2 linked regions of the Homo sapiens genome follow. The protein of the gene in region 2 purifies or fractionates together with the protein of the main gene of each other region. This does not show direct contact. Each region holds a gene or a part of one and is shown on either strand. Other genes may lie near its edges. The genes, in order: TUBA1C and MAP2K2.

Region 1 (7,293 bases), on a different chromosome or scaffold from region 2:
CACTGGTCTCAGACTCTTGGGTTTAAGCAATCCTCTCACCTTGGCCTCCCAGAGTGCTGGGACTGCAGCTGTGAACCCCAGCGCTGGCCTTAAACATGCACATCTTTCAGATGCAATTCTCAGAGCAAAGGGGCTAAAGTGAGCAATGGGTAAGGGATACAAAACACCTTTGGGAAAGAGATGGTAACTGGGTACACATCAGAATAAAGTAAGTCACGGAGGAGAGGTGAGTATGCCTGCAACTCTGCCCCCAGGGCCCATCTGCTACCACTCATTAGGCATTCCCACTCAGGCAAGCACCCAAGCACCAAAACTGATTCCTCCCTTCTGCATGAAGCTTCACCTTTTGGTCATTGTCCTTTCCCATTGCTTAGTTCAACTGAGTACCAGGCACCAAGCTCTCCAGCTACGTATAACACTCATGCCCCTTCACCCGTCTGCCCCCAAGAACCACGGTCCTCCAACAGGTGCTTGGAAAAAAGTCCAAATCAGAGAACTCACCCCTCTCCAATCTTTCCTACACATACATATTACTCCTACTTCAAATAATCTCCATGACATACAATTGGGTCAAATGCCAATACCAGAAAAACCGGTGACTGTTATTTTGTCTGACATTTCCACTTTCTCTAAACAATAACCCCTTTAGTACGAACCATCTTTGCCACTGTAGGTCTTAGCTAAGTATGGAATAAATCAGGATTCCAAGCCCTTCTCGTGTGACTAATACTTTATTAAAGACTGACAGCAATAGTTCTGGCAGTGTGGCTGGGCACTTGAATTTTGGCTCCAGCAGTTACTGTTATCTAACCCTTTGCTACTGTACATGTGGTCACATCAGACCAACAGCATCATTTGGGAGGTTATTAAAAAACGTATCTAGGGGCCAGGTGTAGTGGCTCACTCCTGTAATCCCAGCACTTTGGGAGGCTGAGGCAGGATTGCCTGAGCCCAGGAGTTCAAGGCCAGCCTAAGCAACATGGCAAAACCCCATCTCTACCAAAAAAAAAAAAAAAAAAAAAAAAAAAAATTACAAGAATCAGCCAGGCATGGTGGAACACACCTGTAGTCCTGGCTACTTGGGAGGCTGAGGTGGGAGGATGGCTTAGCCCAGGTCAAGGTGGGGGTGAGCTATGATGGTGCCATTGCACTGCAGCCTGGGAAAGAGACCATCTCAAAGAAAAAAAATTTAAGACGTGTCTGAAGCCTCACCTCAAGCCTATAGAATTAGAACCTGCATTTTGTTTTTAAATTTGAGAGTCAGGGGTCTCCGTCACCCAGGCTGGAATGCAGTGGTGCAATCATGGCTCACTACCTCAACCTCCTTGGGCTCAGGTGGTCCTCCCACCTATAGGCAGGTGCCATCACAGCATGCAAATTTTTGTTTTGGTAGAGATGGGTTTTCACCATGTTGCCCAGGCTGGTCTCGAATTCCTGGGCTCGTGATCCACCCAACTTGGCCTCCCGAAGTGCATGAGCCACCAGGTTGACCCCAAACCTGCATTTTAATATCTACAGGTGATTCACATCCATTTTAGTTAGAGAAGCACTGGCTCAATCTGAACCCGTTTCCTCACTTACAAAATGATTCTATAACCACTTAATTCAGGCCCAAATTAAACAGATAAACCAAGAAGCTGGGCAGTGGCTCATGCCTATAATCAAAACTTTGAGAGGTTGAGGCAGGAGGATCACTTGAAGCCAGTTGAAGACCACCCTGGGCAGCATAGCAAGGCCCCATCTCTACAAGAAATAAAAATAGCTGGGCATGGTGGTGTGCACCTGCAGTCCCCAGCTACTTAGGAGGCTGAAGCAGGAGAATCACATGAGTCCAGGAGCTCGAGGCTGCAATGAGCTATGTATTATCATGCCACTGCACTCCAGCCTGGGTGACAGAGCAAGACCCTCGACTCAGGTGGTTTCATCTACCAGCCTCATACATCCAACTTTAACTGGATCAAGTATTTAAGTCAGCTCGACATTTAAAATGGAAACTTCAATTTTATTAACAATTTACGGCAATAGACATTTACAGAACAAAAATAAGACAGTTCCAAGACAAAGGAGTGTAAAAGTACAGCACACAGGTTAATACTCTTCACCCTCATCCTCTCCGTCAGCACTATCTGCTCCAACCTCCTCATAATCCTTCTCAAGGGCAGCCATGTCCTCACGGGCCTCTGAAAACTCGCCTTCCTCCATCCCCTCACCCACGTACCAGTGAACAAAGGCACGCTTGGCATACATCAGGTCAAACTTGTGGTCCAGGCGAGCCCAGGCCTCGGCAACAGCTGTGGTATTGCTCAGCATGCACACAGCTCTCTGTACCTTGGCCAGGTCTCCGCCAGGCACCACAGTGGGAGGCTGGTAATTAATGCCAACCTTGAAGCCAGTGGGGCACCAATCCACAAACTGGATGGTACGCTTGGTTTTGATGGTGGCAATGGCAGCATTGACATCTTTGGGAACCACGTCACCACGGTATAACAGGCAGCAAGCCATGTATTTACCATGGCGAGGGTCACATTTCACCATCTGGTTGGCTGGCTCAAAGCAAGCATTGGTGATCTCTGCTACAGTAAGCTGTTCGTGGTAGGCTTTCTCAGCAGAGATGACAGGGGCATATGTGGCCAGAGGGAAGTGGATGCGGGGGTAGGGCACCAGGTTGGTCTGGAATTCTGTCAGGTCAACATTCAGGGCTCCATCAAATCTCAGGGAAGCAGTGATGGAGGACACAATCTGGCTAATAAGGCGGTTAAGGTTAGTGTAGGTTGGGCGCTCGATATCGAGGTTTCTACGACAGATGTCATAGATGGCCTCATTGTCTACCATGAAGGCACAATCAGAGTGCTCCAGGGTGGTGTGGGTGGTGAGGATGGAGTTGTAGGGCTCAACTACAGCTGTGGAAACCTGGGGCGCCGGGTAAATGGAGAACTCCAGCTTGGACTTCTTGCCATAATCAACTGAGAGACGTTCCATGAGCAGCGAGGTGAACCCAGAACCAGTTCCCCCACCAAAGCTGTGGAAAACCAAGAAGCCCTGAAGACCGGTGCACTGGTCAGCCTGCAAAATAAAAAAGTTTCATTTTAGTGTTGCGAAAGTTTCATTTAGTGTTCACATTTGGTGAAACCTACAGAGGACTTCTATAAATCTATGGCTACTCCAATTGCAATTTTAAAACTCTTCTGGGCCAGGCGCAGTGGCTCACGCCTGTAATCAACACTTTGGGGGTCCAAGGTGGGAGGACCATTTGCATTTGAGCCCAGGGGTTCAAGACTGATGATCAGGCCACTGCACTCCAGCCTGGATGACAGAGCAGACCCTGTCTCCAAAAAAAAAAAAAAGCTTTTAAGTGCTAAGTGATTCAGAACAACTTTTCACAATCAAGTCCTTGAGCAGAAAAACCTTTGCTAAGACTATTTTAAGATGAACTATTGCCTTAGGCAGAGGAATCACAAGGCCTGGGCTTGCATACAGGGCTCAAGTTTTGGTAACTGGGAAGGCAGCCTCTGGTTCTCTTGCTGTGGCCACAGAACAGGGCAGTTTCTTAGTTGGAGAGGTCCTAAGGGGCAGGCCCAGGACCACCAGCCTGGTACAGTGGATGTCTTGTAAAGATTTGGCAGCTGCTTTCTGAGGTGGAACAACAGAATAGCCAAAGTTCTAACACCCTGGTACTGGAGTCAGGCTGTGTCAGGATCCGGCTGTACCAGTTCCTTACTGTATGACCACATTCATTTCTCAGTTCTTCCACTGATTAAGTGAGAATAGTAATCACCTTAGGTTGAGAATTAAGTAAGTACTCAGCATAGTGCTTGGCACAGTAAGCACAGTATTGGCCCAGTAAGCCAATATATGACACTAGGTACCAAGAAGCCCATTTATTTTGGGTAAAGTGACACAACCACAATTCCATGAGACCTCAGGTTGTTGGGGATTTCCTCCACCTAACTGGGCTATTTTGGTTAGCAAACTGCTACTTTACGAAGGAATGATTTTGACCTTCCAAATAAAGTATTCTGTTGTAAACTCTTGCTTCTCCAAGTGATGGGCCTCAGATTTGTGAACATTCTCTACTCAGCTCCCTTATAGCCTGTGGGTCCATCAACTACATGAGATCAATGCACAGGGCAGACTCTCGCCTACCAATTACACCAGTTAAGCCTCCTGTGAGCACAGTAATGACAAGGACAAATGCAATTGTTTTGGTAGGCAATAAACCTCACGTTCCAGAACCCTAAATAGCTACTAGGTTTATTTGTCCTAAAGGCAGGTCCCTGATTTTCCAAGTCAGTGCTTATAACTAAAGCTTAGGGTTTTTTTTGTTTGTTTGTTTTTTTGAGATGGAGTCTCACTCTGTCGCCCAGGCTGGAGTGCAGTGGCACGATCTCGGCTCACTGCAAGCTCCGCCTCCCGTGTTCACGCCATTCTCCTGCCTCAGCCTCCCTAGTAGCTAGGACTACAGGCGCCCACCACCACGCCCGGCTAATTTTTTTGTATTTTTAGTAGAGAGGGTTTCACCATGTTAGCCAGGATGGTCTCGATCTCCTGACCTCATGATCCGCCCACCTTGGCCTCCCAGTGCTGGGATTACAGATGTCAGCCACCGTGCCCAGCCTAAAGCTTAGTTTTTAAGCATCGGAAACATCAGTCCAGTTTTGCTGGGAAGACTACGTAAACATCTGAGAAAGTATGAAGCCATGAATGATGAGGCTATTCTATTTTAGAATGGAGCAGTCATGGCTGGGCTTAATACAATGTGATTTTCTTGACAAGTTACTCTGCCCAGACCATCATGCTTGATCTCTGGTTAATTACTTACAAGCTGCCCACATGCCTAAGGAGCAAAGAGTCATCTGATTGCCAGGCTCTTAATTAAAGTGATCCAAACAGCACACTTCATAAGGAAGCTCCCGACTCCACTTTCAGCAGTACTGGAAGTTTCCAGTATTGGCTGTTTCTTGTCAGTGTGACACTGGCTTCTTGTTCTCTGAACTTTCTGTATTGACATGAAGGAACCATCCCAGATTTTTAAAAAATGACTCTGATCAATTAGTTACATGTAGAAGTCAGCTACCTACTCACTCAGTATGACTAAGATGACCTCAAAAGGGGTGTCTCAGCTTGAAGCAAAATAGGCTAAAGAGCACTTACTTCTACCCCATAGTTGTCCCATAAATCCAAGATCATCTGGTTCAGAAATCCAATTAATTTAGTGAACAGATACATTTTAGTTGCAATGCAAATAGTCTCATTTTAGTTGCAAAGAATGATTTCTGTAGTTTGGTCTCAGAACTGCAAAAGAAACTCTCATCCCACTTTATTTAAAGTACTATACTTACCAGCTTGCGAATTCGGTCCAACACGAGGTCAATGATCTCCTTGCCAATGGTGTAGTGCCCTCGGGCATAGTTATTGGCAGCATCTTCCTTGCCTGTGATGAGTTGCTCAGGGTGGAAGAGCTGGCGGTAAGTGCCAGTGCGAACTTCATCTGGAGAACATGATGGGGGAGGAGGAGGAGGGACAAGGAGCGGGGAGGGAGAGTGGGTGAGTGACCAGCGGAGCCCCCCCAGGACAGACCTCCTGTCCCAGCACCCTGGGATCTCACTTGGGTTACTGAGGTCAACTCACCAATGACTGTGGGTTCCAAGTCTACAAACACTGCCCGGGGCACATGCTTGCCAGCACCCGTTTCACTGAAGAAGGTGTTGAAGGAATCATCTCCTCCCCCAATGGTCTTGTCACTTGGCATCTGGCCATCGGGCTGGATGCCGTGTTCCAGGCAGTAGAGCTCCCAGCAGGCATTGCCAATCTGGACACCAGCCTGGCCAACGTGGATGGAGATGCACTCACGCTGTGGGAGGAAGAAAGGAAAATGTCAGGGTATAATACATCAGATGGGACATTTAGGAATGATTCACACCTAATGACTGATTAACCTTCAAGACAGATAACTGGCTGGGCGCAGTGACTCACACCTGTAATCCCAGTACTTTGGGAGGCTGAGGCAGGTGGATCACCTGAGGTCAGGAGTTTGAGATCTGCTTGGCCAACATGGCAAAACTGCATCTCTACTAAAAATACAAAAAAAATTAGCCAGGCATGATGGCGCACACCTGTAGTCCCAGCTACTTGGGAGGCTGAGGGAGGAGAATCACTTGAACTCAGGAGGTGGAGGTTGCAGTGAGCTGAGATCACACCACTGCCCTCCAGCCTGAGTGACAAGATATTCCATCTCAAACAAAAAAAGATAACCATCTTTCAGCAGGCCACTCCTGCTCAGGGACTATAATTTCAAAAGCAAAAATCTTTGAAGACCTAATTCAGCAAAAGTGCCTTGGAAAACCAAAGATGTGTTCATGAACTACTCGGCAAGACCAGACAGTTGCTTTGTAGCCACAGTAGATATGATTCCTTAAACTAAGGCAAAATTCCCCTTTCCAGCTCTGATTCATTCTCTGAATGATTGTGTAACTACTGAGCTCATTCTGGTCCCGCTTTAATCCTATTCTTTAGGAGACAAAAGCTTCTCTCTCCCTCCTTTAAAACCAGCTTAAACCAGCAAACTATAGCCATGACTCATGAAGAAAATGCTGGATAAGCAGCAGTTAGCTGTATTTTAAAAACTGTGGTCAGAGGCAGCTTTTTAACCAAGTGGAAGAATCTAATCTATAGGAAGAACGTTTTTCCTTCACCGTCAAAACATCTCCGGAAGAGGGAAGACCATAATAATAAAGGCTAGAAATGTTACCAAGACTTTACTGATAGGTTAAGAAATTAGTTGTTTCTGGCTCACACCTGTAATCCCAGCACTTTGGGAGGCCAAGGTGAGCAGATCACTTGAGGTCAGGAGTTTGAAATCAGCCTGGCCAACATGGTGAAACTGTCTCTATTAAAAATACAAAAAAAAAAAAAATTATGGTAGAGCACAGTGGCTCATGCCTGTAATCCCAGGACTTTGGGAGACCGAGGTGGGTGGATCATCTGAGGTCAGGAGTTCAAGAACAGCCTGGCCAATATGCTGAAACCCCATCTCTACTAAAAATACAAGAATTAGCCAGGCATGGTGGTGCGCGCCTGTAGTCCCAGCTACTCGGAAGACTGAGGCATGAGAATCACTTGAACCCAAACCCAGGAGGTGGCGGTTGCAGAGATCTCGCCACTGCACTCCAGCCTGGGCAACAGAGGCAAGACTCTGTGTCTGTGTCTGTGTGTGTGTGTCTCTCTCTCATAGATATATATTTATGAGGTGGACCAAGTTAATTTAGAAAGGCCAGAGGGGCCAAAGCAGAATAT
Region 2 (3,595 bases):
CACGCTGGGGAAGAGGCAGGGGCGGCCTTCCCGCGGAGGCTACGTGACAGGAGCAGTGTAGAGGAAGTGGTTTCCATCACGGAAGGCCGAAGCTCTGCCTTCCACAGGGGCAGAGATGGTGGCGGGGAGGACACAGAGGGAAACCAGGTGGCATTTCCCTTCTTTTTTTTCAGTAGCCTTGCTCTGTCACCCATGCCGGAGCGCACTGGCACCATCGAGGTTCACTGCAGCCTCAATCCCCTGGGTTCAAGCGATCCTCCCGCCTTAGGCTCCCAAAGCACTGGAATGACAGGCATGAGCCGCCGCCCCCAGCCTCACTCTCCTTCCTTTTGGTGAGAGCCGCCATCGCCTGGGGGCTCACTGCAGGTCTTCATCCCTTGACCCAAAGGGAGAGGCGAGCTCTCCCTAAGGGAGGGCCCTGCGCCCTCCAGCCTCGGCGCCCGGCGATGCGGGTCAGCTCAGGGATGTCCTCTCCGTGCTGGGCTGAAGCAAAGCCCAGCACCCAACGCCGAACGGAAGAAAGAAGCAGGATGGCGCGGTTTGCTTTTTCTCTCCCTGTTTTGTTTTGTAACCTAAGGAAGCAGAGCCTCTGAGACCACACACAGCAGCGTCGCCCGTCCCCAGAGGCACCCCGGCCAGGACGGGCAGGAGAGGAGACCCCCGTTCCTGCATGCGCTGTCGCCCCGCCACGGTGCTCTCCGCAGGGGTGAGGCAGGAGGGTGGGTGGAGGCGCCAGCCTGTCCTCAGCTGGAAGGGCGGGGCATGGACAGGGACGGTGGGCAGGTCACCAGCGGGACGCAGGGAGCCCGGCCACTGTCACACGGCGGTGCGCGTGGGTGTGCCGGGCTGGTTCAGCCGCAGGGTTTTACACAACCAGCCGGCAAAATCCACTTCTTCCACCTCGGACCGCTTGATGAAGGTGTGGTTCTGCAAGGAAAGGGGAGCCGTGAGCACCCGGGCCTGGAGTCACAGTAGGACGGGGAGGGCCAGCGTCTGCCCAGCCCTGGCAGATGGTACGGGACAGAAAGCAAAAAACAGAGGAGACCCTCCCTTCCCCACAGGAAGACGCACTCGGGGTAGGAGAGGGAAAGAAACCCAGAAAGGGGCAGCGGCGTGTGCCAGGCCTGGGAGGGGTCTCAGGATGCTGCACTCCACCTGGGGCGGGGACACCACCAGCACGGCAGCCTGCGCTCCCAGGGGAGGGTCTACGCTCGCGCAAGCCCAGGGTCCTCCGGCCGCTGTGGACACCGGGGCCGGATCATTCTCTGGCGTGGGGCCATCCTGGGTACTGCAGGGTACTGAGCAGCGTCCCTGGCCTCCACCCACTCCATGCCAGGGGCTTCCCCAAGTCGTGACACCACAATGTCCTCAGCCATTGCCAGGGTCCCCCGGAGCAGGACAGCCCAGGCAAGAACGGGCTGTTCCACAGAACTCCGCGAAGAGCATTGTACAGGCACCGTCCCACTCGCCAGCACATGAGGCTCCAGAGCCCCTGGACTGTGGCTCCCATGGCTTGAGAACAAAAGCCTCAATTTTATTTCAGTTTAACAAATTAATTAAATACTTTTACTTTAATTTTTTTTTTTTTTAGATGGAGTTTCACTCTTGTTGCCCAGGCTGGAGTGCAGTGGTGTGATCTTAGCTCACTGCAACCTCCGCCTCCCGGGTTCAAGCGATTCTCCTGCCTCACCCTCCCCAGTAGCTGGGATTACAGGCATGTGCCACCACACCCAGCTAATTTTTGTATTTTTAGTAGAGACGGGGATTCACCATGTTGGCCAGGTTGGTCTCGAACTCCTGAACTCAAATGATCCTCCTGCCTCAGCTTCCCGAAGTGCTGGGATTATAGGTGTGAGCCACCGCAACTGGCCTTAATTTTTATTTTTTGAGACAGTCTTGCTCTGTCGCACAGGCTGGAGTGCAGTGGTATGATCTCAGCTCACTGTAACCTCTGCCTCCCAGGTTCAAGCAATTCTCCCGCCTCAGCCTCCCAAGTAGCTGGGATTACAGGTGCGTGCTACCATGCCCAGCTAATTTTTGTATTTTTAGTTGAGACCGGGTTTTTCCATGTTGCCCAGGCTGGTCTCGAAATCCTGTCCTCAAATGATCCGCTCACCTCGGCCTCCCAAAGTACCGGGATTACAGGTGTGAGCCACTGTGCCCGGCCCCACTGAACACACTTCAACAGCCACGTGTGACCAGCGGTTCCTGTACAGGACAGCACAACATGAGAAGCCTCTTGGTTGGAAGGGCTGGGGGAGGAGGGCGGGTGCCCTTGGGGAAGAGGCTGTGCTGGGCCACCCCACAGTGGGTGAGTAGAGGCCTTTGGGGTTCCCAGGAGGGTGGTGTCCAGGACCTTGGGCCCCTGAATGCTGCCTCTTTTGCAGCTGGAGGCAGGCCAAGGTGCCTATCTTCCTAAAAGTCGGTGTAGGTATGGGTGAAAAACCAACCAACTTGATAGGACACATCTTGGCTAGGTCCAGGATACCCAACAGGGGAGCATTTTTAAGAAGCTGGTTCAAAAATGGCTATTTCAGCCAGGCCCAGTGGCTCATGCTTATAATCTCAGCACTCTGGGAGACCTAGGTGGGTGGATCACAAGTTCGAGACTGGCCTGGTCAACATGGTGAAACCCCATCTCTACTAAAAACACAAAAATTAGCCGGGTGTGGTGGCACGAGCCTGTAATCCCAGCTACTCGAGAGGCTGAGGCAGGAGAACCGCTTGAACCTGGAAGATGGAGTTTGCAGTGAGCCGAGATTGCGCCACTGCACTCCAGCCTGGGCAACAGAGCAAGACTCCGTCTGAGGGAAAAAAAAAGTTATTTCAACATTAGTACCCCTCTCTTTTTAGTTATTTATTTATTTTGGAGAGGCACAGTCTCACCATGTTGCCCAGGCTGGCCTTGAACTCCTGGCCTCAGAGAGCCATCCCCCTATGGCACTAGGATTCCAAGTGCCCACCACAATGCCCAGCCTGCCTCATTAAAAAAGAAAAAAAGTCACACATGCCAGGTGCAGTGGCTCACACCTGTAATCCCAGCCCTCTGGGAGGCCAAGGTGGGAGAATCATTTGAGCCCAGGAGTTTGAGACCAGCCTGGACAATTAGCAAGACCCTGTCTCTATAAAAAAAACTAGCTGGGCAGGTCGGGCACGGTGGCTCACGCCTGTAATCCCAGCACTTTGCGAGGCTGAGGCAGGCAGATCACCTGAGGTCAGGAGTTCGAGACCAGCCTGGCCAACACGGGGAAACCCCATCTCTACTAAAAATACAAAAATTAGCTGGGCGTGGTGGCAGCCACCTGTAATCCCAGCTACTTAGGAGGCTGAGGAGGCTAAGACAGGAGAATTCCCTGAACCTGGGAGGCGGAGGTTGCAGTGAGCCGAGATCGTACCACTGCACTCCAACCTGGGTGACAAGAGTGAGACTTCATCTTTGCGGGGAAAAACAAAACCCACACACAAAAACTAGCTGGGCTTGGTGGCACACATCGGTAGCCCCAGCTGCTCAGGAGGCTGAGTGGGAGGATCACTTGAGCACGGGAGTTGGGGCTACAGTGAGCTACAATCGCACCACTGCATTCCAGCCTGGGGG

The links.
Region 1: the proteins of MAP2K2 (region 2) and TUBA1C purify together in Homo sapiens (affinity purification with mass spectrometry; 2 studies listed by BioGRID and IntAct, with this or other methods). This does not show direct contact.

Annotation. Positions count from the first base shown.
Region 1 is NC_000012.12:49,268,023-49,275,315, reverse strand, and holds the end of TUBA1C (tubulin alpha-1C chain), read right to left. Parts: intron 5,852-7,293; coding exon 5,629-5,851; intron 5,489-5,628; coding exon 5,340-5,488; intron 3,064-5,339; coding exon 2,089-3,063; 3' UTR 716-2,088; downstream 1-715. UniProt on the Homo sapiens protein: Tubulin is the major constituent of microtubules, a cylinder consisting of laterally associated linear protofilaments composed of alpha- and beta-tubulin heterodimers.
Region 2 is NC_000019.10:4,089,782-4,093,376, forward strand, and holds the end of MAP2K2 (dual specificity mitogen-activated protein kinase kinase 2), read right to left. Parts: intron 928-3,595; coding exon 817-927; 3' UTR 540-816; downstream 1-539. UniProt on the Homo sapiens protein: Catalyzes the concomitant phosphorylation of a threonine and a tyrosine residue in a Thr-Glu-Tyr sequence located in MAP kinases. Activates the ERK1 and ERK2 MAP kinases.